Linked DNA regions of Homo sapiens. The protein of the gene in region 1 purifies or fractionates together with the protein of each later gene. This does not show direct contact. Each region holds a gene or a part of one and is shown in the gene's direction. Other genes may lie near its edges.

Region 1 (5,166 bases):
ATTTAATGCAATATTTTTTAGGTTGTTTGAGTGTTTTCAATGGTTTTGCTTTTGTCATGTTCTTTCCTCAGATTCTCATACTGTGTTGGAAACACATTACATTTTCATGAACCAATCCTTGTGGATACTTCTATGGCCATTTCAGCATAGAGTATCTACAATACCATTACCATGATTTTATTTCCCTTACAATTTATCTTTTTATTCAATATTATTATGTTTGAATTGGTGCCGAATAATTTCTACTTTGCTATGTTTACTTTCAAAATCAGAAATCAAAATCATTTTCTCTTTTAGATAATACACATGTCTGATAGTTTTCTACTTTATTAACATTTAATATTATATTAATATTATACTATTTCCCTCAAAGTATCACGAACTACAGATATATGATTGTTTGTATTATGTGAACATATCTATAACTTAATAAAAATATACAAACACAAAAACAAAACAAAATAAAAACTTTAAAGTTACAACTTACATAATTTTAATATCCCATCTGGAAATAGTCAGATTCATTGTCTGGTTTATATTAAATTTTAAATTTAGCTCTTCCAAATTATAATTATATAAACAGGTTGAAGGGGTCCTTCCCCTATTAATATTACCACAGACTTAATATTGACAGCCATTTTTTATCTTCAGGAAATTCTATACTACAGATAGAATTATTTATAAAAATTGATCAAAGCAAGATTTTTAAAATTATAATGAAAAAATAAGAGGAGGGTAGGGAAGAGTGTAATGTCATTGAGCTTCTGTGTTGGAGTCACTCACTATTTTGAAAATTATGCATGTAAGTAACCAGAATAATTTATGAATGTTTAATTCAGTAAGATTAAATATAAAAAGGATATTACGACATTCTCCTAAATATTACCTTTGCTTCTTTGCTTATTCCTCATAGACTGGTATCCCACGCATGCTACCCACTTTTCAAAGACCAAAATGCTACCAACAATGGATGTGCCATGGCAAGCAGGTCTGATGGGCGAGGAAAACGGCATGCCACGAAGCCATGTCCCAACAACGTAGAAAAATCTAACAGGATCTATCAATGTTCTCCTCCATACAGAGTCTCTTCCAACGTAAGTATAAATGGCAAGAATCAAGAATAGTTGGCTTTCTCAAATGTATATAGCTCTACTGTAACTAAAACAATTTAAAAACTAATTAAAACTATTATATTCTAAAATAAATATTATATTTTCATGTATAATTTTTAATATTTTTAAGGACTTTCAGTTTGGGTATGATGTCTTATCTTTGTAACATTAGCAGTGTAAAGGACTGACTTAAATTTTAAAATGTCCAAGGAAATAGGGTTTTAAAATTATGTTTCATAATATGTGTATATACATATATTTGAACTTGACAATTAAAAGTTAAGTTAAACACTTTTTCACTGACTTTTTTGTGGTATTAGCTCATTTTATCAATCCTTTGCCTCACTCAACAAAATAATTTAAGAGGACCTGGGTCTAATAGAAAAAAGAGTCCCTTGGATTCTAGTTTGTCTGTTAAAAGCCTAGGCGAATTTACTTCTTCATATCAGTGTTCCCCAAGCCTTCTCGTTTTCAGAATTTGTGAACCTCCAGTGTCTTCTAATTATCTCCAGAATACAATTCGGTGTTCTAACCATAGCACATTGGCCTTTCATGAGTTGGTTTTGACGTACTACTTTTATACACTCATGTCCTGCCAGCATCTGCCACTCTACCCAGCCATAATGCTCCTAATACATAGAACTAGTCTCTTTTCCCCAGGTACACCATGCTCTGTTATACTTTTCCACTTAGCTAGGTGATAATTCCTCTGATGCAAATGGTTATCAAGCCTTTCCATCTAGAATGCCAAGCAAATGTCAAGGCCCAGGTAAAAACTTCATCTTCTCTGTGACGTTTTCCTTGATTTCCAGGCAGAATTAATTTTCCTTTTTTGTTTGCAAACGTAACACTTTGCGCTTGTCTCTACAATGGATCTTATTAAATAATAATGAAATTAGTAGTGTCATTCAACCAAAATGTAAATACCTTGAGTATAGGTGCAGGGTCAATATTTGTTCCTGTCATAGTTTCTGGCATGTACTTTGTGCTCAATATGTACAGAAAAATGGATGAATGAGTGCCCTGCCTCCCTACAGAGGGCTTCATTAAACATTAGGAGACATCATAGAAATATTTGTACTAAAGCTACTGAGACATCTAACTAAACAATCATTTGGGATATCTCTTGTGAGAAAAAAATTAGAGGTACTAGTAATCTCCACTAATTAAATATTGCTTTAACTTACATTGTTTCTTTATAACCATAAAAGGCTATTGTATTTTGTCTCCACTCCAAATTTACTATTTAGTGATAAATGTCATTAAAACAAATGGGTGCATCTTGTCTTTAACAATTTCATTAATGTAGCATAATATACGTGAGTTTTTCAAAGTACAATTGAGAGTAAATTGCAAACACTTAACATTGTACACCAATCAATGGGTTTAGTATGCTCTGATAACAATGATATTGCTTATTCATATTTTTCCATCCAGGAAACTGAGATAATGAAAGAAATCATGCAAAATGGACCAGTTCAAGGTAAGCTTGAATGAAATACGGTTTTTTCTTACTCATTCCTTTAATAAACAACATTACATTGAGCTCATGTAATAGGAGTTTAATAAAATAAAGAAAATTTTTACTTTAAGAGTATCCAAAAGGCTTCAACAGTTCTAAAATGAGTGCAGTTATGAGAAATATGCTTACCTATATCTTAATTAGCTGCCATTTTATTTTCAGAAGATAGACTCATTTATAAATTGAACTCTTAAAAATTAATGACACATTTGATGAATAACTCCGAAATCTTTCCAAAGTGATCATGGACCAACAGAAAGTCCAACATGAAATGCCAACTGACTAATTTGTAATGAAGCTTACTTTATTTATTCAGTCATATTTAAGAATCATACATACAGTTTTCTTATCTTCAGTTTAAATAGATTAGGTCGTGGATTGAAAAAATTGAGGATTAATATTTTCCTTCTATTAGCTCAAAATAAAGCGAGTAAACTAGTGTAATTTTACATTTTACAAAAGGTTTTCAATTTTGATCAATTTTGTAAATGTTTTATTTAGAGTAACAGTAAATAATGAAATCATACAGTTACTTGTATATTGCCTTTGATTTATATCATCTCTTATGATAATTTATTCTGCTTACCTGTTGAATTTTATTTTGCATCAATGACCTGAATAAGGGTATACTCACAGAATGTATTCCCTGTATAAACATTGGCTTGAAGTGCATGGAAGAACAAATCCAATGAGGTCTAAAATGAAAATTTAGGTTGTGAATACTGAAGGGCCCGGAATATATTATCAATGCAGTGGAATAAAAAATAGGCCAAAATTAAATGTAAAACATTTGGTACACACTTAAGGAACTGTTGCCAATTTTAATTTTTCTGAATACTGATCTAATTAGTATCGGTTAAATATATATAGGCAGGAATCATGGATTTTATAATTGTGTTGGATGAATTTTTATTGATCATTATCACCACTTAGCATTTATTGAGAAACCACAGCCTACATAAACATGTCCTGAATTTAATTTTTAAAAATTATGGGAAAATTATGGGACATTACCCAAAACCTGAAACAAATGAAGAGAAATTTTCTGTTCCCCCTTACAGCTGTTGGTTATTTGTTGGTTATTTGAAGAGTGAGGGAATTAATCTCTAATTTCAATGCATGCTCCATTAAGTGGTGCTTGTGTGACAAATTTAAAAGATCACAGGCATTTGGACTCAAGGTTACACTAAAATATCCCAACTTTGGCATTTGCTGTTTAAATAACTTTGGGCAATTTTCTTAACCTTTCAGAATCTTCAAGTTGTTGTATTATTGTTTCAAGTGTTTTTTTTTTCTTTTTCCCTCTCTCTCTCCCTCTTTTTAAATCAATCAAACAATTTTGAATTGTAATTATTTAAAATTGAGAAAATTTAAATACCTTAGATTTATTTTATGGCCATATACTGAAATGCTCATAAATTTCACAGAATGAATAAAAAATAAAGACATAACATTTCAAAGCAATAAAACAAAAATGCAAGTTATTCAACATTCATTTAACAAAGATTTCTTGAGAACCTGCTTCCTGCTAGCCTAAGCCAGGAGCAAGAGACGAGGAACAACCAAACATCTCATCCGTGTTATAATTCTGTATAATGAGTTTGCTGCAGTTTTCCAAAAGTAAAATTGCATGATTGTAACTTATATAGTTATATATTCGTGAATTTATCAAGTCTGTTTGGTATCAGAAACTGCAGAAAGAAGCCATCTTTCAGGTAATTATGGTGGCTTCTCATCCTTTTTCTTAGGTGGCAGTGTTTTTCAGGAATAATGAATACATTTTATTTATGATGCTTACAGGAAAGTTGAATCATAAGACCTCAAAGAGTCAATGGTTCTACAGAAAAGAAAAGCCACTAGCAATATCTTCACATTTTTATAAATGGATAGAATGCTGGTTGACTCTTCTTGCTATAAATGTTACAGGATTGCCTGGCCTGGCATACGGCATTTCCCCTGTCTCAGTACGAAAGAGTGTAAAAGCCAATAGAACCCTGAATGAATAACTTTGTGTACATTCTTCTAAAATCTGTAGGATTGAAAATAAGTATAGGTGATGGATAGAGAACAAAAGCAGAGATCTGCGTAAAGTACAGTTACATAAATTCTTAAAATCCTCTAGGAATGTGTTTTAGAGTAGATAAAGAAGTTTTAACCTCTTTTGCGACTATTTGCACAGCATCAGAAAAGGCATGGAACATTAAAAAATGAAACAAAAACTGGAACATTGAAAAGTTATATTTAACTTTGGAGTATAAGCTTTTTTAAAGGATCTGTCAAACACTAGTTACCTTACTTCCTATTTTATTTAAAATGCTTGTCAAATTAAGACAAGTATTGTACACAGTTATCAAGCTATACATATCTAATCCCAATTAAAAATTTTCAAATTCATATCTTCTATAAGAGAAGTTTAAAGGCTTCACCCTGAATTGCCAAAGCCCTTCAACAAAGCAGCACACAATAGAGAGATGAAGTAATTTAGGTGAAGGAAGGAAGGAGAGCTTTCTAAAATATAAGCCCTGCTTTTTA
Region 2 (5,166 bases), on another chromosome or scaffold:
TAGCTTTTCTATATTTAGATACGTAAATATTTACCATTGTTACAGTTTCCTACAGCATTCAGTACAGTAACATGATACATAGGTTTGTAGCATAGGAGCACAATAGGCTATTCCACATAACCTAAGTGTGTAGTAGTCTATACCATCTAGGTTTGTGAAAGTACACTGTATGCTCACACAGTGATGAAATTGCTGAATGATACATTTCTCAGAATGTATCTCCATTGTTAAGTATGTATTATTGTACTTACTGTTCAGCATCTCAAATCCAAAATCTGAAATGCTCCAATGAAGAAGCATTTGGAGCTTTGATTGAAATGTTGGCACTCCAAAAGCAAGGATTTGGGATTTTTTGATTTCAGATGTGCAACCTATTAATAATTATATTAAATGTAAGTATGTTGAATGTTGTAACATTCAGGGATTGGCAGAATGGGTTTACAAAAAAAAAAAAATTAGAATCCAGCTTTATGCTGTCTACAAGAGATAGACTTTAGATTCACAGACACAAATAGGTTAAAGTAACAGGATGGAAAAAGATATACCATGTAAGTAGTAGTCAAGAAAAATGGTAGAATGGCTATATTTAGGTCGAACAGAATATACTTAGAGTAGAAATCAGTACTAGAAACAAAGACATTTTATAATGGTAAAAGAATCAATAGTGAAAAGATACATCAATTATCAACACACCTCAAAACAAACTTTTTGTAGATATATGAAAAGAAAATCTGTGATATTTAAGGGAAAAACAGATATTTTGACTGAAGTTGTTGAAAAATACTCCACTTTTGATATTTCATAGAAAAACTGGACAGAAAATTGGCAGAGTTTTAGAAGACTTGAATAACATTGTCAATCTGACATAACAGACATCCAAAGACCACTTCAGCCAACAGTAGAAGCATGCACATTCTTCTCAAGCAAGTGTTAGTAACAGTCTCCAGGGGACACCATATTTAAGACTAAAAATAAGTCAATAAATTTAAAATGCTTGAAGACATACAAAACAGTTTTCTGTCAATAAATTTAAAATGATTGAAGACATACAAAACAGTTTTCTGACCAAAATGGAATTAAATTAAAAATCAACAATAGTTACTTTGAGACATCTGCAAGTATTTGGAAATTACATGACACATTACTAAATAACCATTAGTCAAAGAAGAAATAACAAAGGAAATGTAAAAGGATTTTAAACTGAATGAAAATGGAAACACATCATATCACAATTTGTGGTATCAGCCAAAGCAGTGTTGATAGAGAATTGTGTATCCTTAAGTGTCTGTCTTTAAAAAGAATAACAAAGCTAACTGAAGACAAGCAGAAGGAAGGAAATAATAAAGGTTAGAGTAGAAATTAGTGATAGAGACAGACAGGAATAGAGACTGCCTGTGATGGTGGATGCCAAATGAGTGATCTTATCGGAGTGCAGAAATACTCTAAAACTGATTTATGGTAATAGTTGAACTGCTGGTTAAATTTAGTAAAGATCGTTGAATTGCATACAATATTTTTAGTGTGTGTATTTTATTATATGCAAAATATATCTAAATAATGGTTTTTTAAAACAAATATGGGAAATAAGATTATATAGCATTATGTTTATCCAGATGTCCCATAATGTTTATATTAACATTTTTTTCATGACATCATTAAAACAAAGATTGATTTTTAAGTTTCCAGTTATTTTGACCCCTTAATACTCTCTTTCTAGAGCCAATCTTATATTTGAAAAGGATTCCTTTTCCTTTGTTTTCTGGCTGTTAGAGATTAGACATCATATGTGAAACTTTTAATGAAAAAACCAAAAACCAGTTAAAATTAACTTTGCTTTCCATTTCTGCATTTACTACATTTATCTAATTTTGTTTTGTTTTAGATCACTGTGTCCACTACTATGATCTTCGTAACACTAAACAGCCAATCATGGTATTCAAAGGACACCGTAAAGCAGTCTCTTATGCAAAGTTTGTGAGTGGTGAGGAAATTGTCTCTGCGTGAGTATTACTCTCCTCAGAGGTTGAGCTTAATACAGAGCTCTGTACTTACCTACCAGCTTGTAATGTCACTGAGGGTGTATGTAAACTATAATATTGGAGTATATGTACTTTTTCTTAAATAGTAGATTTTTTTTTTAATCTTGTCCAATTAAAGTAGTGTGGTTTCTGGTCTGTATTGTGCACTTTTATATGTGAATTGTGGGTAAAATCCTGAAGATACTAGTTTTTTATATACCCTCCCCCCTTATCTCATCCTCCTATGTTTAATTGCATTTGAACTTCAGATTAGATTTTAGCTATTGCTTCTAAAGAAGAGATAAACAACATAGTTGATGCAATAGAATGAGAAGTATTTTATTTATTAAAGTCAACTCATGTGTTACTGTGTATTTTATCTACTTGCAGTATAGTAGTAGAATTATTTTTGGTTTTAAATATTACTTGGTTGGCTTTTACACTGACATGGTCATTTATCTGTGATTTCATGGTGACTTTAAATATGTTGAAAAGAAAACTTTTTTTTTTTGGCACAGAGTCTCGCTCTGTCACCCAGGCTGGAGTGCAGTGGTGTGATCTCCGCTCACTGCAGCATCTGCCCCCCAGGTTCAAGTGATTCTCCTGCCTCAGCCTCCCAAGTAGCTGGGACTACAGGCACGTGCTACCACGCCCGACTAATTTTTGTATTTTTAGTAGAGACGGTGTTTTGCTATGTTGGCCAGGCTGGTCTCGAACTCCAGACCTCAGGTGGTCCACCTGCCTCGGCCTACCAAATTGCTTGGAATACAAGCGTGAGCCACCACGCCTGGCCGACAGATGAACGTGCTAACTCAGTCTGGCTCCAGAGCCTGCATTCTTAACCAGCAAACTGCATTGCCTCTAATTAGTAGTGATGAGTTTCGTGCCAAGAAATTTTAAGTAAGTTCTTACTCTTTGTACTTTTCCTCAGCTCAACAGACAGTCAGCTAAAACTGTGGAATGTAGGGAAACCATACTGCCTACGTTCCTTCAAGGGTCATATCAATGAAAAAAACTTTGTAGGCCTGGCTTCCAATGGAGATTATATAGCTTGTGGTAAGTGAAACCATCGTTTCCAGGAACTTTTTAACAGGTGTTTGTTATTGAAATTGAACTCAGTGGAAATAGAATAAATACTAAGTCAAGAAATGGTCTGTGCACTCAGAAGATAGTATAATAGACATGATGCCCCAGCACTACTGATTTTCCTTGTGTTGTACTAGAAGAGCATTAGTCCTTCCCTTTTTTATTGTGTAGAAACCCTGAACACCTCAAATACCTGAACACCTGATTTTTAACTGTTTTATAGTTGTTCTCCATTATAACATAATTCTTTAGATATTGTGTAGAAGACAGAAAAGGTTAAGTTCTGTTAGTAATATTTCCAATTTTGGAGACATTATGTGTCTTCTTAAGCTTGATATTCATTTTCCCCTATCTGCTGTTCTCTTCATGAAGTAATCTGTTTGCATAGCATTGATCTGTTATTCTATGGCTTTTATTGTTGATAATTTATACAAATTTAAATAAGAAATAGAAAAATCAAATTTGATATTATTCAAATGCTCTGATACATCTAATGCCTGAATAGATGAGCTTTGATCATACTTTTAAATGACTTGGCCTTTGTTCAGCAAAGTTGACTTTCTCCACATATGTATGAGACTGCCAAAGCAAATATCTGGAACAATTATTCTATCTTTAATAGATGGCTCAAAAATAAAAATACAGTTCATAGACCATTAATAGAATAATTCCTATACTGAGAAATGGAAATAAATTATGTAGGCTATGAAAATCTGCCTGTGTAAGTGTTGCCACTTTCTTTTACCTCTCTAAATGGAAATCTTCCTAAATGTAATTTAAGATTCTTATAATATATTTCTGGTTCTACTATAGACTTATTAGGCTGGTGCAAAAGTAATTAAAAGTAATGACAAAACCCACAATTACTTTTGTACCAACCTCTATAAATGATTTTATAGGGTAATTTTAGCCTTAGAATTATCAGTATTGTTGTATCATTTAACACTGATTGTTTCTTTAGATTAGTAAAGTATAGCTTTTGTCCAAGAATCCTTTTCTTACATGATTTCTAATTAGTCCTGTGATCTAGCCTTTCAAATTTGCCCATAAAAGATCTTTGAACTATAACTTTGGCTGATAATTACTATTAGACTGTGATGTCCTAATTCCGAGTTTTTCTATTCTAAAATACTATTATTATTATTTGTTTTCAGGAAGTGAAAATAACTCTCTCTACCTGTACTATAAAGGACTTTCTAAGACTTTGCTAACTTTTAAGTTTGATACAGTCAAAAGTGTTCTCGACAAAGACCGAAAAGAAGATGATACAAATGAATTTGTTAGTGCTGTGTGCTGGAGGGCACTACCAGATGGGGTAAGTTTTCATATCAGTTTTTTCACCTTGGGATCTCATATTATGCATTATGTATACACAGGGTTTGATTAAATTTTAAAATATAAATTGGTATGTGGTATGTACTTTTTAAAAAACTTTGTAATGTGTCACCAAAGACAATAGGCATTTTAGGTAGTGATTGAAATGCATAGTAATAGAGCAATGTCATGGTGTCATAATGTCCCTCTGTGACCCATAGCATTTAGTGCATATCTCAGTTATAACCATTATCATATTGTCTGTTCATATCTCTTCTATAAGACTGGAAATTCCTCCAAAATATGCATTCTGTCTCATTTTCTTTATTGATTATGTGCAGTATAAGCTTGATAAACATTAAGCTGAGCTGGTATTTTAATAGGGAGGGAGAAAAAGAATTGGTACAGGTAAAGGATAGTGGCCTATATGGTCCTCTAATTAAGTACTATTTCAAAGTAGAATTGCTGTCTACAAAATACATTTATATATGAATATTTAAGCATATTTAGTATATTGATGAGACAGTTATGCTACTGGGTTTTATAAAGTGGAGTTGCCTCAAACTTTTCACTTATGTTTTAAAGTATAAGGTTTTTCATAAGTTATATGAAAAAATAATTCTTAGGCTAGGTTCGGTGGCTCACACCTGTAATCCCAGCACTTTGGGAGGCCGAGGCGGGCAAATCACGAGGTCAGGAGATCAAGACCATCCTGGCTAACACGGTGAAACCCTGTCTCTACTAAAAA
Region 3 (5,166 bases), about 14 Mb from region 1:
CTAGATTATTTCCCACTTTCCTTAATTATGCATTACTCCGTGATGAACATCCTTGTAGGTAAATGTTATTCACATCCGTGATTATTTCCTTAAATTCTTAGTGGAATTTCAGGTCAAAGGCTTTAAAAATTCATGTACAACTTCTCTCCAGAAAGATTATATGATTTTATTCTTACACCATGATTGTGTGCATTCCCATGCACCCCTACCTTAAACTGATGATGAATTTTGTAACATTCTGCCTTTTCTAATATTTGGCTTCACTTGAGCACTTTACTCTTGGTTTCCTCTCTCTTGCAGCGCTGAGCTGGGTCTTCATAGAGACATACGTTTACATAGCTTCTTGGAAACAACTGGTCTGGTGGCTGGAAGGGTGTAGTCAGTGGCACTGTCCATGTAGCAAAGGTCAGCTAAAATTCAGGGGGAGGGGTGTGTATGTGTGTCACCCACATTATCAAAGAAAACGTGTTTGTTATAGAAAGAAATTTTACCTATAAATAAATACAAAAATCACCTATGATCCTATTGATCACAGATAACTACTGTGTACATTTTCATAGCTTATCTTTTCTCTAGATCTTCTTGGATTTGAATGTGAGCAGGTGTGTTTCTTCAGACTCATTCTTTTCATTCTTTGATCTTTTGTATCCAGCTCTTCAAGAATGCCTTTGCTGAATTTTCCAGTTTGCTCATTCATTCCTGTGTTCATTCTGCTTCTCAAGTTTTTTCTTCTTGTAACTATATATTGTTTAATTTTCAAGAGCCCTAATTAGGGTTTTTTCTTGGTTTATTTTCAAGATTGAATATTTATCCCAATAAGGATATTCCCTCTGCTTTTTAAAAGAATTATCTTCTGTTATCACTGTTCCTTCTCCTCCTCCTTTCATTCTTCTATTTGGGGAAGTAGTTATCTTTCTTTCATGCTTCTTCCTTAAATGTTTGTTGATTCTTGGCGGTGTACTCATCTTAGTGCCTGAGGTCTCTGTTGGCCTGCCCGGCAATGTTGTTTGTGTTGTGTTTCTGTTTGGGTTGCTCCAAGGTTGTGGAGAAGGGGTGTGAGGTACTGCTGAGTGTCACCAGGACTCAGGCCTTGCCCCCGAAATGGTTTGGCTGTGTCCCCACCCAAATCTCTTCTTGAATTGTAGTTCCCATAATCCCCACGTGTCATGGGAGGGACCCAGTAGGAGGTAATTTAATAATGGGGGTGGTTACCCTCATGCTGTTCTCATGATAGTGAGTTTTGACGAGATCTGATGATTTTTATAAGGGGCTTTTCCTGTTTTGCTCAACATTTCTTGCTGCTGCCATGTGAAGAAGGACGTGTTTGCTTCCTCTTCTGCCATGATTGTAAGTTTCCTGAGGCCTCCCTAACCATGCTGAACTGTGAGTCAATGAAACCTCTTTTCTTTATAAATTACCCAGTCTCAGGTATTTCTTTATTAGCAGCATGAGAAGGAACTAATACAGCCCCATGGCTGGCTTAAGTGTCTGCACTGGTGCTTTATCCTTGAGGCAAATGCTTCTGCTGCCTTCCCGTGCCGACAGGGAAGGATGAGGCCAACCTGTCCAGCTCCTTCAAATATAACTCCCCTCTTAGACAACCTCCCTGACATGTAGTAGGACCCCTCTGCTCCTGTACATGTGACTACTAAGCTGCGTGCACACTAGTCACTCCCTGTTTTTACAGAACCTTCTCCTGGGTGCACTTTGAGCTGTGGTCTCTATCCGTCTGGTCGGTTCCATCTGCTTTCTCTCTTTCAGTACTAATTTACCTTTCTGGGCTATCTACGGCATTCTTTCTTACCTTCCAATGCTATTATGGATTTTTAAAATCCTTCCATTATTTCTAGGGATATTTGGTAGAATGGAGCTGTCAAATAGCACTTAATTCAAACACTTTTGTTTCCATTATACAGAGTATCAAGACCTGTGTAGTACTTGGTTGTTAAGAGCAGAGTCCTGAGTCAAGTACACATGGATTTAAATGCCAGCTCTTCTTACTGTGTGAGATTAAGCAATTTTCATAATCTTTCAGAGCACCTCTTTCCTTACCTACTAAATGAGATAATTGTTATTGTGAGGCTTCAATGAGCTAATGTATGCAAAGCCCTCAGCAGAGCACCTAGCACAGAGCACTCAATGCTTAATCTTTTGGTTGTTTTTGTCAGTTTTGATTCTTAGCTTTCTTTTTAAGTTAGGCCTGGTTAATATAGGTCTGCAGAGAGCCTCTTTTCCATCCATCTTGTCTGGACAAAGAGTTTTGCCTTCCAGCCCTTTTCCCGGCCTCACCAAGAACAAGCAAGCAGTCTGACCCCCTTTCTGTTGTCCTTACAGCCCAGCTCCAGCGGCTGGAAGGGCTGAGAACCATAGGTGTTACCACCAATGGCATCAACCTGGCCCGGCTACTGCCCCAGCTTCAGAAGGCTGGTCTCAGTGCCATCAACATCAGCCTGGACACCCTGGTGCCTGCCAAGTTTGAGTTCATTGTCCGCAGGAAAGGTGAGCGGATGTGGATGGGGTGGGTGTCCCTCCCAGGGCCTGCACATAGCTGGGGAGGGCATGGCCATTGCTGAGCCAGGGGCCTGGTCACTTCCTCTTGGTGTCTGGGCTATCAGTAAGTCAAAGCACTTATTTCTCACCCCTCATCTTTGCCAAATGTATGTCAGGGACTTTGGGGGTCAGACGCTAATGACCTAGGGTGACCAACCTCCCCACCACCCCAGCCCCAGTTTGCCCAGGACTTGAGGGGGTTTTAGAATGAAGGACTTGAAGTTTTAAAACCAAGACAGTCTGTGGCAAACTGGGCCGAGTTGGTCATTCTACGATGAGCTCTGAAGAAACACGGGACAGCCCAGGGTGGAAGTAGCCACCCTGGGATGCCAGGGTCTGGGTGTATGCTGCCAGGAGGGGGTCCCCCAGCAGGCCCCCATGGTTATCCCTGTGCCCACCTGGGTATAAGCCCCTCCTATGCACCTCCTACTACAGGCACAGCCATACCCTCCACTCACCTGCCTCAGGAGGCCCAAGGTAGACAGGTGGAGCCAGCCTCGAGCTCTGGGTCACAGGAGACCAGTGCCTGGCTTCCCTTTGGCATGGACCTCATGTTGGGGCAAAGGCTCTTCAGGTTGGGATACCCTTTGATATTTGGGAGGGGGTACATGACTGAGGACTCTGGAGGATCAGAGGGGTGGCAGGGAGACCCAGATCTCCTTCCTCTTCCTTGGAAACAGCTTCAAGATCAGCCCCACCACCTTCTTTCCTTCCTTTTCTTAAACGGGGTGTGATGCCTTGCTTAATACCCTCCATGTGCTGAGGAAGCACTCATGGTGTCTCTTTCCTCTATGGAGGCCTGCTCCAGGTGCTGTGGAGGGGACAGAAGACACATAAGACATTGCCCTGTCCTTACAGGCTGCTAAGGGCCAAAAGATGTCATTCCATGGGACAGCCTTTGCTTGTCTTGTGGTACTGATTAAAGAGTTACAGAGAGGAAGAAAGAACTCTTAGCAGGAGAGAACTAGGAGGGCTTCAAGGAGGATGCATGCATGCTGGCCTTGAGGAACTGGAGGGTTTCAATCAATGGCACATACTCTGAGGGGGAGCAGGAGTACAGAACCTGCAAGGGCTCTACGGTGGGAAAGTGGGAGGTGGATCTGTGGGCTGTACTGCCCGCAAACACGTTCTCCCTTTTTGTCTCTTATTTCCTGGCACATGGATTGGAGACATCAGATCTTCCCTCCCATTCATACTCTTTTGTCCACCACCTGCCTTTGGAGGGGAGTGTTTTACAGAAAAGAAAACTTATAGTTCTAGGTTATCCTAGCAGCATTATTTTTTTCAAAGCTATACATTTTTCCCTTTACCCTCTCACTGAGCAGTCTGAAAATGCTGCAAGGAAACCATGGAGGCCATCTCTAGGCACCCTGTCTCACAGGTGACCACCCAGGCTGTGCAGGCTGGGGGTGCTGGAGGGGGCCAGGATGCAGTAGGTGATCAAGTGATTGGATGCATGAGAGAACTGGGCAGTGAGAAGTCAGCCTGGGGTCACATTGACTGTGGTTAATGATTGTTGAGACAATAATTGCTTACCAGCCCTGGAACAGCACCTGTGCGTAGTAGGTGCTCAGAGAGTATGTGTTGAGTGAATAATTGATGGACTGTTGAGGAAAAAACACTGAAACGGGAGTGGAAAACCTGCATTCTGAAAGATGGAGCCATGGGGCTTTGAGCAGAGCATTGCCTCACTCTGGGTCTTGGTTTCCTCCCGTAGACTACAAGAGGGTTCAACTAGATCCAGGGTCAGCATGCTATGGCCCACAGGCCACATCTAGCCCCCTGCCTGTTTTCATGTAGCCTTTGAGCCAAGAATGCATTTTACAGATAGCATTCAAAATCAGTTAATGATAGGGAACATTAACTATGAACCCCATTTAAGCAAAATATTGTCCCTGCAAAAAGAATCGCATTATTGTATCCCATTTGTAGATCTGTTTTACAAGACACTGTAGTCAGTTATTACTATTACATTTTGAATTTAGCCAACACTTTGTGACATGTACTTACACGGATCCTCAATTTTGCCTCTTGGCTTGCAAAGCCTACGATATTACTCTGGCCTGTTTTAGAAAACGTTTGCCAATCTCCAGACTAGATGGGCTCTGGTGCTTTTCTGTGGGGGTGTGGGGGAAGAGGAGAGAGGACAGAAGTTCCTGGATCCTTGTTTCTCCCTCCCAGGCTTCCACAAGGTCATGGAGGGCATCCACAAGGCCATCGAGCTGGGCTACAACCCTGTGAAGGTGAGGCCGTGCCCCTGCCGTAGATTCCCGACTTCCCTCCACACTGCCCTGGCCTTCCCCTCACCGCCCCTTGGCCCACTTGAGAGCCCTCAGCTCTGGCCAGCATGGCTGAAGTACGTGCACCCTTCCACCTCTTCTCTCCCTGCTGGTCCAGCCCTGCCGACCCTTGAGAGAAACGAGAAAATCAGTGACCCCAAGGAATCCCGTAACTTAGAGAACTGAGTGGGAGAAGCAAGGAATGGGTCCCTGAGTGGAAGGCCTCAGTGAGTGCCAGGCCCCCAAGGGTCATCTCCACAAAAGAATGCAGGGGGCACAGCCCTCATGGTCCCATTGTTCCCCGGCCAGGTGAACTGTGTGGTGATGCGAGGCCTTA
Region 4 (5,166 bases), on another chromosome or scaffold:
CAGCATGACAAAGCAGAAAGCTGTGCGATTTGGAGGTGCACATTCTGGGTTTAAGTACCAGGTTCTGCCATGTGCTTAGCCAGGCATTAGGCAAATTGCCACCAAAAATATTTGCTTCTTAGCTTGCTTTTTGTGAATAACGCCAGCTCTAATTACTGGATAGATGCGTTGATCAAAGATGAAACTAATTTGTAAACTTAAGTACCAAATACTTGTTATATTTTTTCAATAAAACAAATTTTGTTGCACTTAATGGTAGATGTTTTAGGATCTTTATAAATAGTAATTAATCCTCCTAACAACCCTTTGAGGTAGATAGCATTATTATTCCTATTTTAAAGATGACAGTAGTGAGGCACAGAGAGAAAAATTTACTTGCCCTGGCTCTACACCTTTCTTACTGCACTATGCTACCTTGAAGAACTCCTGCTGGTTCTGTTGTTATAATTGAACAAAACTAACTGAATGGTAGTGCCTATAAAGAGAGACTATTTACACATGAAGTCCGCTATTCTTAGTCTTTATGGACTAAGAAGTCCATATTCTTGGTGGAATAAGAAGTCAACTATTCATATTCTTTTAGAACATGAACTATTGATGTTTTGTTACCAACAACTGAAGTTAGAGGGATAAACAGGCAATATGTTGTTAGCTTCACACATAACATATCTGCATCAGTAATGAAATAGCACTGGTTCTGGTCCCTGCTATGCCACTCACCAGCTATGTGACTTTAGGCAAGCCAGTCATTTCATTAGTACAAATTGAGCCCCAGTGCATAATGTAGGGTTACCCTGGAGGATTGCAAATGCATGGAATATTAAATAGAATTGGAAAAAATAGCTAATGGAAGAGATATCATTAGGTCATATGTAATAAGTTCTAATAAATTGTACAGACATAGTAGTCTTTAAATTCATAATGGTGAGCTCATGAGCAGTGGTTAGGAAAGACTGGTCAAAGATGTGGAATATGAGCTGGACTTTAAAGGATAGATATTAGCAATGGGAATGGGAGGTGAGGGAAGAAAAAGCAATAAAGCTTATTAGGGAAAAGAAGAAAGCAATTTAAAAATGATTCTAAGGTTTCAAGCATTGGTGCCAGAAATAAATAAGCTTATAAATGAAGCTAGTTTGGGGTGTAAGATTCAGTTTTGGCCAGGCGCGGTGGGTCACGCCTATAATCCCAGCACTTTGGGAGGCCGAGGCGGGCAGATCACGAGGTCAAGAGATCAAGACCATCCTGGCCAATATGATGAAACCCCGTCTTTACTAAAAATACAAAACTTAGCTGGGCATGGTGGCACGCACCTGTAATTCCAGCTACTTGGGAGGCTGAGACAGGAGAATCGCTTGAACCTAGGAAGCAGAGGTTGCAGTGAGCCGAGATTGCACCATTGCACTCCATCCTGGTGACAGAGCAAGACTCCGTCTCAACAACAACAACAAAAGATTCAGTTTTGAACACACTTTGTGAAGTCTGAAGTGGTAACCTTCAGGACAGGAAATGTCTGGGAGCAACTGGAGAACAGAAAGTTTAGTGTTCAGTGAGGTCAGGGCTGGGCAGCCATCCTCATGTATGTATCAGCTGAAGCAGTGAGAGTGGATTCTCCAAGACACAGAGTGTAGATATAAAACAGCAAGCAAATAGCATTGCTTTTAGAAAGTAGCCTTTTAATTTGATTGGAAGGATTGCCTGGGAAGGAGCACATGTGAAATGTATGGAGTGATAGAAATGTTCTATAATGTTAAAGTGTGTTACGGGCATATGCATATGTCAAATCGCATGAAATGTACACTTAAGATTTGTACATTTCACTTTATGTACTTTACCTCAATTTTTAAAAGATGTCATCAGACAAAGAGAGCAAGGTGAGAAGGACCTGATCCCATAATTCCACTGCATGCTAACTCAAATCAGGAAGTCTTTATTAAAGGCCCCATGTGCCTGTCACTGTGCTAGGCACAGCAACTTTCAAAGAGGTAGAGAACATTGTCCTTAAAGAGAGGAGCTTCCTGCAGAGCTAGGGAAAAGAGAAGGGAAAGTTAATTAACTATTTGATATATAATCAACCCCCAAAGACAGACACACACACACGCTTTATAGCGTTATTATAAAGATTAAGTGAGATGATGGATGAAGAAAGTGATCTGAAAAGCTTTTCTAAAAACTCTAAATCTGAAGTATTTATTTCTTCACCCATAAACTTAAGGTAGTAATACCTTTCATGGTTGTGCACTTAATGAGATAATATATATAAAGTGCTTGGAACTTAGTAAGTTTCAAATAGATATTAGCATCTTTTTCCCCTGGCTCAATCTTAAGTAGTAAAGAGAATTTAAAGAAGGCAAAGATAGAAAACCTATAATTATGTTCACCATGATATTATCTATAATAAGGAAAAATTAGAATTTTATTCCTATATGCTAGTAAAATGTGAAGTTTGATTTCTTCATATTTTTTATTTTCAAAATTTCTACAACCAGCATACATTATTTAAAAACAAAGTTTAACTACCTTGAAATTTATACATTAAAAACATTATAACAGAACTCCTAAAGGAAGAAAAAAATAGAAGTCCATAATTGTCTTTAAGATTAAACCTAAGGATGTTAAAAGGAACAGCATTCAAATGGTATTTGATTCGGTTTAAATCCTTTTATTTGTCCACTCTAAAACTACAGAACATCTGTTACGTGCCAAGCATTGTCTTTGGTGGTATGGATATAAAGGTCAGCAGTGTAATGACTTTATTCTGAAGGAATTCAGTCTGATGGAAAAATCATATAAACAAGGTGGTTACTATAAAACATGGTACTTCCAGTGCCAGCGATGTGAACAAGACATTTGGGGACCTCTTTTGCTTAAAGATGGTTTCCTGGAGGAGGCGAAACCCTGAGGTGAGTTTTAATTTATTCCACTCGTCTCTTTGGAAATTATTTAGACTTTTTTCTTCTGCATTTAGCTGCAGTACAGCAATGGCGATCAGAAGGTAGAACAGCTGTATGGCTGCACATTCCCATCCTCCAAAGCCGATTTATTGCCCCTGCTGCTTCCCTGGGCTTCTGCTTTCACCACGCAGAATCGGATTCATCAACGTTGACTCTGTGGCTGAGAGAAGGGCCCAGCAGATTACCAGGATATGCTTCACATCAAGTAGGAGTTGCAGGTCAGTTTCAAACTCATGATGAGCAGAATTAACTTTTTAGACGTTCACCCAATTTCTTGCTTGTTACAGCTAAGCAAATAGTTTATTCATGTGGAATGAGTTATTTGATTAAATGATTACGGTGGTTCCACCCTATCTGCACAGGATGTGTTCCAAGACCCCCAGTGGGCACCTGTAACCGCAGATAGTACCAAACCCTATGTATATATACCATGTTTTTTCCTATCACACATATTTATGATAAAGTTTAACTTATAAGTTAGGCACAGTAAGAGATTAACAGTAACTAACAATAAATTAGAACAGTTATAAAAGTATAGTGTAATAAAAGTTATGTGAATGTGGTCTCTCTCAAAATATTGTTTTGTATTCACCCTTTTGTATTCACCTGCACGATGAGGTGAAGTGAGGTGAATGACAGGCATTATGACCTAAATGGAAAATTCCAGAAAAAAACTCTTAAGTTTTAAATTGCATGCTGTTCTGAGTAATGTGATGAAATCTCTCACCATCCTGCTCTGTCCCACCAGGCCGTGAATCTTCCCCATATCCAGTGTATCCATGATCCATAGGCTACCTATCCATTAGTTACTTAGTAGCCTTCCCTGTTATCAGATCAGCTGTCCCAGTATCACAGTACTTGGATTCAAATAACCCTTATTTTCCTTATTAATGCCCCGAAGCACAAGAGTAGTGATGTAACACTTCGAGACTATGGTTGACCTTGTATAACTGAAATCACAGAAAGCAAAACTGGACAAGGGGGACTACAGTATCTATTACATAGTGCTTTTAAATAGGACTATTACATAGTGCTTTTAAATAGATGAAGTTTGCCTCAATCAGTAGACAGACGCACAGAGAACAACTTTAGTGTTTAGTTTTCCAAAGGATATGCTTGAATATATTTTACACATATAATTAAACTTCACTACTCAAATAGTAGCACTGAATTGGGATCAGGGAATAAATTTATTGCAGAGTAAAACATGTTGGCACTAATTATGTAAATTTGTAAAGTAAATGATCATTTTTATGTTGAATTTCAGGTAAAGCAAACCAATTTTTCAATGATTTGAACAATTACTTCTTAATAATATTTACATTATTGTGCCAAACAGTTGTTTAAAATCGTGTAATTTAAGTGTAGAGTAGAATTTTGAAGTGGCTGATTAGCTTCAGAGACATAGGAAAGTTGAGAGAAGACTTCCCTCAGAGTAAGACACAGATTCTCACATTGTAGATTGCATCAAAATCACCTGGAATCTTAAAACAGATTGCTGGGCCCTATCCCCAGAGTTTCTGATTCAGTAGGTCTATGGTGGGACCTGAAAATTCAGGTGATCTTCCTGGCTGTTTCTGTTTTTGCTGCTGCTGCTGCTGCTGGTGGTGGTCTCAGTACTACCCTTTAAGGACCAAAATTCTTAGATTTCTAGAAAAACTATAATAGTAAGGGATCCTTATGACCTTAATAAATGAAAGCAATGAAGCATATTAGTTATTTAATTAATAATTTTATTTGCCTTTATATAATTTACAAGAGTTTTTAAGGTAGTTTGCTTTTCAAGGCTTTTCAAGGAGTTGTTCAAGAATGCCTAATGATGTCTTCTCTGTCCCTGTCTTACTTCCCTGTAGCAAGTAGACATTCAGAAACTCTCCGTTCAGCTCTATTTCAAAAGATTCTACTCAATAATTTAGTGACAGCCTCACACTTCAATGGAAAGTTATGCAAATAATTATCATTCACGGGCACAGACTCTTAAGAGTTCCCAGTTATTACTACAGAATTGGTAATATATGCAAAAAGAGTATCCTATGAAGGGCCTGTTGATAACTAAGTACTATATTGTATATTGTACATTATAGTTTAGAGTGTCAGAGCAGTTCAAAGAATAAGAGATGCAGAACTTGACCAATCTTGAACACTAACTAGGATTTGAAGCCACTGTTGGGGGTGTGGACGAGGTAATGTAAGAAATTGTTCTGGAAAGGTGCAG
Region 5 (5,166 bases), on another chromosome or scaffold:
CTTCAGAGAGAACCTTAGAGGGAACCTGGAATTCAGGGACAGAGCAGGGGCCAGCAAACTATAGCTTGTGGGCCAGATTCACAAAGCCTGTTTTTGTGAATAAGTTGTGTTTGTTTACTTATTATCTATAGCTTTTTTCAAGCTACAGTGGCAGAGTTGAGTAGTTAAATCAGGGACTGTGTAGCCCCCAAAGCCTAGTGTCTCTTCTCTAGCCCTTTACAGAAAAAGTTTACCAACCCCTAGGCTAGAGGGAGAAGAGCAGTATAGGGAAATGCATCATGGGTAATAGACCCCAATCCAGGATCTCCACCCCAGAAGTGGTGATCTTGCGGCATTCTAGCCCTAGAGTATTTGGTGGGGACGGCATGGTGCCTGGGTCAACACTGTCTGCAAATACGCCAGGCCCCGAGGCACAATGTCTTCATTTCTGCCCTCTCCCTTCGCGCTCAGCCACACATCCAGCGAAGGTGGGGGTAATTATCCTTGACCTTATCTAGACTTCCTCTGTTCTCTGACGATGCCAAGTTCTGACCATTTTACTTATCTGATGGGGAGGTGGCTGCTAGGAGAGAAGGGGAGCTGTGTGTGTGGAACACAGTGGAGGGGCAGAAAAAGCGGCTTGTTGGTACTCTTTCAGGCCACAAGGACAGCCATTATGCAGGCACTGTCAGTAGGCGCTTCCTATTAAAGTAAAGGGTAAATCTGCGAGTGTCCCACAATTAAAAGCACCCGGCTGGAGGTAGAGGCACAGGGGGATTGGCTGTCTGTTGATTCTTGTCAAAACTGGGTTTGGGGTACTTGGGATTATACTGCTTTGTCCATTTTTATGTGTTTGGAACTTTTTGTAGTAGTTAATTTAAAATGCTCCTGCTCTTGCTAGGATATGACACTGGTTGAGACCAAGAGTTGATCTTCACACCCAGAGCCACAGCCTCACTCCACCTCTCCACAACCCTGTGACCCCGGGAAAGTCACTTCACTAAGCCTGAGTCCTGTTCGGGAAGTGGCAGTGATTAAAAGCTTTTTTTTTTTTTCCACCTAATCCTCCCAATTTGAAGATCAAGAAATTACTGACCTTCAAATGGGAAGGATTAAGTGAAACAAAAAACCTGATGGACTTGGCACAGTGACCAGCAGAGAATAGTGTTCAGTAAATGTTGAGGTCCAGCACGTCGCAGTCTGAAAGGCAAGATAATAACATGGTGCATAAAACTGGAGTTTTCACAATACTTTGACAGGCTCACAATGCATCAGCAAATAGGACAGTGATTACTCATGATTTGATAAGCTAAGAAAGGAATTCAGAGGTAAAAACGCCAGCTAGTCTGACCGATCTGGGCCTAGAGTCCAGGTTGCTGTAACGCACTAAGCAGGCTGTAATCCAGGACTCAGTAAATTGGAAGGAGAACCTTGTCAGAAATTCTATGCTAAGGGCTGTAAACGTAATGGGTGCGAAATAATTGTATGTCTGTGTCTTTTTAAACGTGGAGTTTTTTCCACAGAGGCACTGTGTGCAGTAGAGGCGGTAATAGTGGAGTCAGACAGGGCTGCTACTCTGTGCTACTAGTTTAACCTCTGCATAGATGTAGTTTCTCCTGCTGCCTGCTGAATACCAAATACCATGATGAGTTAAGACCACTGAAGTGACCAGCAGGATTTTAGAACTCTGATATACGTGGCTCCCTCCTTCTAGTGTAGCTTCATAAACTCAACGAATGCATCCCTTTGGTGCCCACTCTGTGACCTTTTCCATCTTTTCCAGCACTGAGGCAGTTGTGTCAGACATCCTCTTCGTCTCGATTAAAGCAATTTAGCATTTTTTTTTCCCCTCTGAATTCGTGAGTGGCAAGTGAAAATCATTCCTGTGTATTGAAAAAACGTGGATTCTCACATTTCCCATGCCGACCAAGCATGCTAGGTGCTGTTAGAGCCCACCTCATCCAGAGTGCCCTAGGTGGTGGGCCCTCACCTGCGTCCCCAGCGCTTATCCCAGCACACTGGTTTCCAAAGAACTCCTCAGGTTGACACTGGTTGAATTGGGGTATCCTGGGCCAGCTGCCAGTGTTACAGTAGAGCCCAACCCTGGGCATCTGCAGTGCCGATTTGGTGGCGGTCCATCAGAGGATGGTCCAGAGACCTGGACCGGTTCGATCAGGGCATAGCCACCCCTTTTGGTCCTTTGCTTTGTTAGGTTACGTAGGTAGGTCTAAATCCCTCGCCGCAAAAAAGAAAAGGCCTAGCTGAAAATATTATCTTTTAGTCTTTCTGTCTTGTTTTGAAGGTGCTTGACATCCTCCAGCACATCCAAACCCTAGACCCGGGGCAGCACGGGGCGGTGGGCTACCTGGTGCAGCACACTCTAGAGCACATTGAGCGCAAAAAGGAGGAGGTGGGCGTAGAGGTGAAGCTGCGCTCCGATGAGAAGCACAGAGATGTCTGCTACTCCATCGGGCTCATTATGAAGCATAAGAGGTGAGTGCCCGGGATCATCTGTCCTGCAGTGTCCGTTCCAGAGGGGCTGCAGAGACACACATGCACCTGGTGAGCCCCCAGGACACAGTGGAGGAGGAGCTGACTGGATCACTTATCCCCCGAGTGCGCACCGCGGGGAAGACAGAAAGCTGAACCTCTTTTTTTTTCTTTTTGAACCGTGTCTTTGACCTTTGTGTTTTTTAAGCAGCAGCTTACTTTCCTGAGAGATCTTCTAGTGTTTTTAGTGGCCTTTAGATGTTTGACCCTTCTCTGTGTGTGAGAACATGGAAGTAACTTTGTAAGACACGAGTTTTTTCTCTCATTTCCTCATTGTTCTTATATCTTGTCACTTAATCTCAGTCTCTTCAAATCCGATAGGCACTTGGTCTATTTACCAGGCAAAATTAAACTGTATCCAAAGTGATTGGAGCAGTTTACATCCCACCAGCAGGCTGGGAGCCTGGAGTTCCTATTCTCGCCTGGTGCTATTGCCAGACCTTTAAAAGTGTACTTACCTGAGAAAGGGCAAATAGTGTTTCACTGTGGTTTTAATTTCTGTTTCCTGGGTTACTAAACACGTTAAGGTTCTTTTCATATATTTACTGGCTATCCAAGTTCCAAATTTCCTTTTATTAAGCGCCTATTCAAACATTTCATTTTTCTTTTCTTTTTTTCTTTTTTTTTTTTTCTTTGGAGACAGTCTGGGTCTGTTGCCCAGGCTGGAGTGCAGTGTTGTATCTCAGCTCACCTGCAACCTCTGCCTCCCAGTTCAAGCGACTCTCATGCCTCAGCCTCCCAGGTAGCTGGGACTACAGGCGCACACCACCACGCCTGGCTAATTTTTTGTGTTTTAGTAAAGACAGGGTTTCACCATGTTGGCCAGGCACGTCACTAACTCCTGACCTCAAGTGATCTGCCGTCTCAGGCTCCCAAAGTACTAGGATTACAGGCGTGAGCCACCACACCCAGCCCATTTCGTGTATTTTTTTCTATTGAGTTATTAGTCCTCCCTAATATGATATGTAGTTGTTCTTCTGTGTATCAGTATCTACATGACGATAAGTTGCAAATATCTTTTCCCAGTTTTTGGCTGGTGGTTTTCATTCTTTATTGCATTTTTTTAAACTTTTAAATGGAAATTTGCAAAGATTTATAAGAGAGAAAGGACTATAAGGAACCAGGTGGTGTTCCTGTCATCCAGCCTCAACAGCTGCCATACGGGGTGAATCTTACTGTCCCCTGCACCCTCCAGACCTTCCTCCCTGGGTTAATTGACGCAAGTGCCAGATGCCATTTCACCTGTAGCGATTTCAGTATGTACCTCTAAAAGGCAGGGGTGCTCTCTCCTTCTCTGTCTTTTCATATTTAACATCTTATTATCACATCTAGAAAACCCCAGTTCCTTAACTTCATGCAGTATCTAATGAGAGTTCCTATTTCCCCAGTTGTCTCATATTTTTACATGTTTGGATCAGGATTTGTTAGTCTCTTGGTTTTAGTGATGTCAGATTGGTTAGTCTTTTCCTTTACGGCTGTATTTTTAGTGCCTTGTTTTAACAAACCTTCCCTATCTTGAGTCATGAAGATACTTTCTATTTTAGAAGTTCTGCATTTAACACCTGAGTCTTTGCTGTACTGAGAATTGAATTTGGTGTGCTGTTGTCAGGCCAGGTCCCCATACCTTTTTCTTTTGGGTAACCAGTTGTCATCTAATCACTTTTTGTTGAAAAGTTTATTCTTTTCCAGATAAAGTGCTATGTTGATAATAAGAGGTGTTTATAAAAGGGGTTAGGGGTGTCCTGAAAAATGATTCACCGTGGAGTAAAGCAGGTAACTGAGGATGTGAGCTGAGAAGCCACGCGGTTGTCTGGAGGTTGTTGCGGCCGGGTCTGCAGGGACTGACTGCTCCTCCTGTGTTAACTAGGTATGGCTATAACTGTGTGATCTACGGCTGGGACCCCACCTGCATGATGGGACACGAGTGGATCCGGAACATGAACGTCCACAGCCTGCCGCACGGCCACCACCAGCCTTTCTATAACGTGCTGGTGGAGGACGGCTCCTGTCGATACGCAGCCCAAGGTAAGCGGCGGGTTCCGCTTGTGCCAGTGGCCCCGCGGGCGTGTTTTCAGCGCACGTTTGAGCCCTCGGGTAGGTACTGTGGGCGTGGGCCATCGGTTCCTTCAGAGGCGGCCGACGCCCCATGGCCGGCCTCCTTCGGGCCCACAGTCAGCTAAACGTGGCTGGGTCTGCACAGGTGCCGCCCTGGCGAGGGGTCAGTAGTCATACCCGCCCTCCCCCAGGGCCTCCGCTCCCACAGCCCGGACATCTGATTGGCCACTGTCTATGCCAATCAAATTCCTGTAAGTCCTGCCTCCTGGACCCTGCCCTCGGCTCCTCCCAGACTAGAAGGGAACCGGATGAACACCTGGGGGCCCCCTAGTGCTCCCTGGCCTCCCAAGGCTGTGGCTGCCGGCTGACGCCGGAGATGCCCTCGTGTGGCCACCTGTGGGAACTGCAGCCCACTGCGCCGGCCCTGGGAGCACCTGAGAGCCCGCAAGTGTACAGTAAGGTTGGGTAGGCGTCTGGGCCACTGCCGCCCCGGCAGGTGCCAGCCCAGGGCAAGGCTGAGGTGGAGACTGACAGAGCCTGTGGAAGCTGGTAAGAGACAAGAATGCCTTCAGTGTGAGTCTC
Region 6 (5,166 bases), on another chromosome or scaffold:
ACTAGAAGGAAAAGTAACAACTTTTGTGGGTTTCTTTTTTTAGCTTCTTTTACACAACAGGTAGAAAAAGACTATTCATTGATAGGTTTCCTGTTTACTTTCTTGGCAATGTTGACATTTGACCTTGATTCAGAGCTCCTTGACAGGAGCTCTGGCATGCCCTGGTGGTAGTCCAAAAACAGGTCTCAGAGAAGCTGTGTGTCTGAGACCAGCATTTCTGTGTGATGCATTCCTCTCAGTAAAACACCCCTGGTCTTTGAGCACCAAGAGTCTAAGTCTCTGTATGTTTTGATCCTGAGATGAGCTTCTAAAGCCAACGGGGAGGTGCTAAACCTTAGAGTCTAAGCAATGGGGCACAGCATTTCCCACTTAACATGTCATTGGACCAGAAAGTCCTGAAATGTCCCAGGACTTTACATTTCCAGATTTTTATGTCTTCCTGTTAGTTGACACATCGAAGCTCAGCATGAAGGGACCTTCCCAGGCATGTACTTGAAGCTGCTGCTTTTGCATCAAGTCTGCCTCTACTTCCCTCTCGTAGAGAGGCTGCCCCTTTGTCCCTGTCTCTGAGCAAGCAGGTTTCCACGGTTACTGAACTTAGTGGTTTCCACGACTTCTCAGGACTTACAGGTTCCTTCTCAGCTCTTCCCTTTAGGGAGGTCCGAAAGCTAAATTTTAGAAACAGCAAATGACACAAAAGCCTTCGTTTTGAGCAGAAAAGGTGGCAGTTTTCCAGCTTTCATCCGATAGTAGGGCACAATTTTCTAAGTACTTTCTAGCTTTCTGCAGACAAGACTCACGAAATAAATACTGATTGCTAATTGCTCTGACGAAAAGACCGCTGGATTGAGAGCAAGGAGAACTGCATTTTCGTTCTGTCTTGGACACAACTAACCCTGGCCTTAGTTTCTTCATATGCAATATGGAGAATTTGGCCATGTGAATTTTAAGGAATCACACAGCTCTTTAAGCCTGCAATGGGGCAGGACCCTTGAATCCCTCAGCCCAGAGACAGTCTGAAAAAGACAAAACCCTTCCCTCCAGGCTGTATTTCTAGGTCTCGTGTCTAGCAAACAGATGGTGGCAGATGTATAAGGCCAATTTCAGTCACTGTTGTTTAACTGAACCTTTTAATTCATCTGCATTTGGGTGAATAAAATAGAAAATTGCACACACCACACATACACACACACACAGACAGACACACACACAAGTCCATGGAAAATCAAATGACTCATTCAGCCCTATTCCCCCTTCTGATCCACGTTCATGCAAATGTCCCAGTATAACTAGGTGTAATTATTGACACCATTTATAGTCATTTATCAGCATTGTTAACACTCTGTTCATTTTGTGACTTGAATGTAATTATTCACTGTTGACGTTTAATTTTTTTTTAAACAAAGCATTATCCCACCATCAAGGGTTCCCTTCATTGAGAGGGTCTTAGTCAGAACACTGTGCTGTTTTAATGTGTTTCTGGTGCAGTCCCAAGGCTGAGCTGAATCAGCCTGGCTTGGGAGGCATCCTGTCCTTGGGAGGGTCCTCTGGAGGTCACTTCAGCGGCAGTGGATGCTGACAGCCTTGGACCTTGGACATCTGAGCCAAGAGGGCAGACCAAAAAGACAAGTTTCCCGCAGGAGGCCCATGTGGACATTCAGCCTTAAGTTCATTAAAGCATGCATTATTTGTCTTAGTTACTCAACTCACTAAGTGCATTTCTTATACTAAAGATTATTAGTAGCTTCAAACTGTTGCATTCCAGAAGGAGTAGCTCTTGGATTTCACCAGCATTTTTTCTGAAGCATTTATTGTGCTTGTGGAAATACGTATGCATTGTTGAAAGATTGGAAAACACTCAAATGCCCAAAGAAGAAAAGTTGCCTGTAACCCCAGCCCCTCCAGGAGAGCCACTGTTAGAGCTTTGCCTTCCTATTTTCCCCTTCTACAAGACAGACAGTTAAATAACTCGTGTTGGATCTATTTTTTAAACAATATTTTAGGGGCAGGTCTCGCTATGTTGCCCAGGCCGTAGAGCAGTGGCCCACAGGCAGGCCGAGCATAGCTCCCTGCAGCCTTGAACTCCTGGCCTCAGGCAGTCCTGCCTCAGCCTCCCCAGTAGCCAGGACTACAGGCCTGTGTCCTGCTCTAATTTTTTTTTTGAGACGGAGTTTCACTCTTGTTGCCCAGGCTGGAGTGCATTGACACAATCTCGGCTCACTGCAACCTCCGCCTCCCAGGTTCAAGTGATTCTCCTGCCTCAGCCTCCCGAGTAGCTGGGATTACAGGCATGTGCCACCACACCCAGCTAATTTTTTGTATTTTTAGTAGAGACAGCGTTTCTCCATGTTGGTCAGGCTGGACTTGAACTCCTGACCTCAGGTGATCCACCCGCCTCGGCCTCCCAAAGTGCTGGGATTATAGACATGAGCCACCGCCCCCAGCCATCCTGCTCTATTTTTGAATTGAATGTTTTAATACTGAGACAGGCTTATAAAACCAACGGGGAGGTACTAAACCTCAGAGTCTAAGCAATGGGCACAATGTTTTCTACTTAATATGTAATTGGACCAGAAAGACTGAGTGAGGATGTTGAGTGTAGGTAACGGGGCAGTGCATGGAGGGCGGCCTCTGCCCTGCACCCCGGCTGTGCTGAGTGTCTCTGCTCCACTTCCAGGTGTGCTGTGTGTGAGGCGCCTGCCATGGTGATGGCCGTGCACAGCCAGACCATTCAGATCCCACCGTGCCCCAGCGGGTGGTCCTCGCTGTGGATCGGCTACTCTTTTGTGATGGTAAGTGTCTGGGGAGACGCCATATTTCCCGGGAAGAGCCCCACTCACGCCCCATAGTCGCCTCTGTCTGGTGCCTCCACACCTTGGAGTTCTCTGCATCTCGCTGCTTAAGCCCCTCCTTCTTCCTCCAACCATCCCCTTCCAAAGCATGCCTCAAAGCCTGGCCTGCCCTGCCTGGTGACAGCAGGGGTCTCCAGCACCAGCCAGAACCCTCCCCTGCTCACAGCCAAGGTAGCTGGGATGAGCATCTTCCTGGAAATGCAGGCCCAGGCCTCTGCTTCCCTGTGGCTGCTCCACTCAGGTGCTCTACGGGTCTGTTCCAGCACCAGCAATATGAACAGCTTCTCTATACAACCAGCTTCTCCATACAACCAGCTTCCCTATATGAGCAGCTTCTTCATATGACCAGCTTCTCCATATGACTAGCTTCTCTGTATGACCAGCTTGTTCATATGACCAGTTTCTCTATATGACCAGCTTCCATCTTTGAGCAGCTTCTCTATATGACCAGCTTCTCCATATGACTAGCTTCTCTGTATGACCAGCTTCTCCATATGACTAGCTTCTCTGTATGACCAGCTTCTCCATATGACTAGCTTCTCTGTATGACCAGCTTCTCTCTATGAGCAGCTTCTGTATATGACCGGTTTCTCTATATGAGCAGCTTCTCCATGTGACCAACTTCTCTATATGACCAGCCTCTTTACATGGAGTGGAGGCCTCTTTCAGGGAAAGGAGGAAGAGAGCCTCCACGTGGGGAGTACACATTCTACTACAACATGCACGAGCTTGAAAGCAGAAGCTTGAGTTAGGGAGAGAACACCCGAGGGCTGGCCGTGGCCTCCACGAAGGCCCTCCTGGGGCAGTGCCGCCTGGGACCCTTCCCAGAGGGCAAGGACTGCTCTCCTAGCCCCAGGGCTTCCCTTTCCCACAAAAGCCAACTGAAACAGAAAACAAGGCCCCTGTTTGATACACTCATTGTAGCTTATTTTATTCTATTACCCCAGTTGGCAGTATTGATTGAATATATACAAGCCGTGAACTTGTAAGATCAGAGTTATCCCGGAATTTGCCAATTCCCAGTAAATGACCCTACACATACATCTGCACCATCATTGGAAGTCCTAGTCCCATCTTCACACTGTCAGGAATGGGCAAGTTGTACATTTGACCCACAGATGAACATTATTTATTATCTGATTGACAGGCTTCATAGCTATTTTCTTCTGTAAATTATTCCAATTGTAGAAAAAATTGGCGGGAAAGCATTTTTTTAATGTTTGAGTGAGGACGCTGAGGGTAGATAACAAGGTAACTCACGGATGGTGTGGCGTCTGCCCTGCGCCCCAGCCGTGTGGAGGGTCTCTGTTCCACCTTCCAGACGTGCTGTGTGCGAGGCGCCCACCATTGCCATTTCCTTCTACTGGTTTTTTCTTGTGCTTTTCTACACATTTTTCCAAGTGTAGAAAAAGTTGGCAGGAAAGCAATTTTTAAAATGTTCGTGCACGTGTACAAGTTTGATTGTATGATTTGCTGGGTTGATTGTACTGCAGCTACACTCTTCATGTTGCAACCACCAGATTAACAGGTTGTTGCAATAATTCGAAGTGCTGCATTGTAACTACTTTATCGAGAGAGCCAGAAAGGTTGAAAATGCTGTATAGAGAAATCAGGACACTAACAATGATGTAAGCTTGCCATGTTCATTAAAAGGTAGATTGGATTCGCCACTCCATAATCATAAGAAATACTGAGTGGAATCTCTGTGTGTCAGAGAAAGCCCACAGTTGCATTGAGGACCCACAGGAAAGCTGTTGTCACCACCAACCCTTGTCCGGGTGTCAAAAGGCCTGAAACAGTGATTGCCCATAATTTGTCTAAATCAGGAGCAAACGAAAATAGTGACGTTCTAGAGAACAGTGTCTTCCAGCACCTCCTCTGAGTTCTCAGGACGGTGGCTCTGATCTGGAGGTCTGGAGACCCCGTCCTTGCCTCTGCTCCGCCTTGAAGCTATGTGATCCTGGTCAGATCCGAGAATGTCCTCAGCTGGGAATCAGTGGAGTTAGCCTTGTCCTCAAAGGTCCCTTGTGTCTCCAAAATTCTAGAGTTCACATTTCCTATATCTGAAATAATAGTCACGGGGCTCTGTTGTAATGTCTTAGTCAAGTTTGTATGTCATTCATTTTAAGGTCTTGATTTCTGAGTACAGGAAGGTCCTACTTAAACCTGCTAGACCAAAATGCAATTTGATATAGTAGTAGCTATTTTTTTCTCTTTCTCTTGTTTTTCTCTCTTTTTAAAGAAAAAAAATTGAATGATTATTCTTTACCTTATTATAAGATAAATAGCATCTAATATAGCAAATACAGGAATG

What was found.
Region 2: the proteins of TINAG (region 1) and COP1 purify together in Homo sapiens (affinity purification with mass spectrometry; 2 studies listed by BioGRID and IntAct, with this or other methods). This does not show direct contact.
Region 3: the proteins of TINAG (region 1) and MOCS1 purify together in Homo sapiens (affinity purification with mass spectrometry; 2 studies listed by BioGRID and IntAct, with this or other methods). This does not show direct contact.
Region 4: the proteins of TINAG (region 1) and NUDT6 purify together in Homo sapiens (affinity purification with mass spectrometry; 2 studies listed by BioGRID and IntAct, with this or other methods). This does not show direct contact.
Region 5: the proteins of TINAG (region 1) and FBXO21 purify together in Homo sapiens (affinity purification with mass spectrometry; one large-scale study listed by BioGRID and IntAct). This does not show direct contact.
Region 6: the proteins of TINAG (region 1) and COL4A1 purify together in Homo sapiens (affinity purification with mass spectrometry; 2 studies listed by BioGRID and IntAct, with this or other methods). This does not show direct contact.

The regions. Positions count from the first base shown.
Region 1 is NC_000006.12:54,348,803-54,353,968, forward strand, and holds part of TINAG (tubulointerstitial nephritis antigen), read left to right. Parts: intron 1-913; coding exon 914-1,094; intron 1,095-2,549; coding exon 2,550-2,595; intron 2,596-5,166. UniProt on the Homo sapiens protein: Mediates adhesion of proximal tubule epithelial cells via integrins alpha3-beta1 and alphaV-beta3. This is a non catalytic peptidase C1 family protein.
Region 2 is NC_000001.11:175,986,196-175,991,361, reverse strand, and holds part of COP1 (E3 ubiquitin-protein ligase COP1), read left to right. Parts: intron 1-1,882; coding exon 1,883-2,000; intron 2,001-2,949; coding exon 2,950-3,074; intron 3,075-4,258; coding exon 4,259-4,419; intron 4,420-5,166. UniProt on the Homo sapiens protein: E3 ubiquitin-protein ligase that mediates ubiquitination and subsequent proteasomal degradation of target proteins.
Region 3 is NC_000006.12:39,913,401-39,918,566, reverse strand, and holds part of MOCS1 (molybdenum cofactor biosynthesis protein 1), read left to right. Parts: intron 1-2,334; coding exon 2,335-2,499; intron 2,500-4,731; coding exon 4,732-4,793; intron 4,794-5,138; coding exon 5,139-5,166. UniProt on the Homo sapiens protein: Isoform MOCS1A and isoform MOCS1B probably form a complex that catalyzes the conversion of 5'-GTP to cyclic pyranopterin monophosphate (cPMP).
Region 4 is NC_000004.12:122,915,504-122,920,669, reverse strand, and holds part of NUDT6 (nucleoside diphosphate-linked moiety X motif 6), read left to right. Parts: intron 1-2,965; coding exon 2,966-3,169; intron 3,170-5,166. UniProt on the Homo sapiens protein: May contribute to the regulation of cell proliferation.
Region 5 is NC_000012.12:117,155,179-117,160,344, reverse strand, and holds part of FBXO21 (F-box only protein 21), read left to right. Parts: intron 1-2,260; coding exon of another isoform or gene 2,261-2,281; coding exon 2,282-2,472; intron 2,473-4,396; coding exon 4,397-4,554; intron 4,555-5,166. UniProt on the Homo sapiens protein: Substrate-recognition component of the SCF (SKP1-CUL1-F-box protein)-type E3 ubiquitin ligase complex.
Region 6 is NC_000013.11:110,152,909-110,158,074, reverse strand, and holds part of COL4A1 (collagen alpha-1(IV) chain isoform 1 preproprotein), read left to right. Parts: intron 1-2,677; coding exon 2,678-2,792; intron 2,793-5,166. UniProt on the Homo sapiens protein: Type IV collagen is the major structural component of glomerular basement membranes (GBM), forming a 'chicken-wire' meshwork together with laminins, proteoglycans and entactin/nidogen.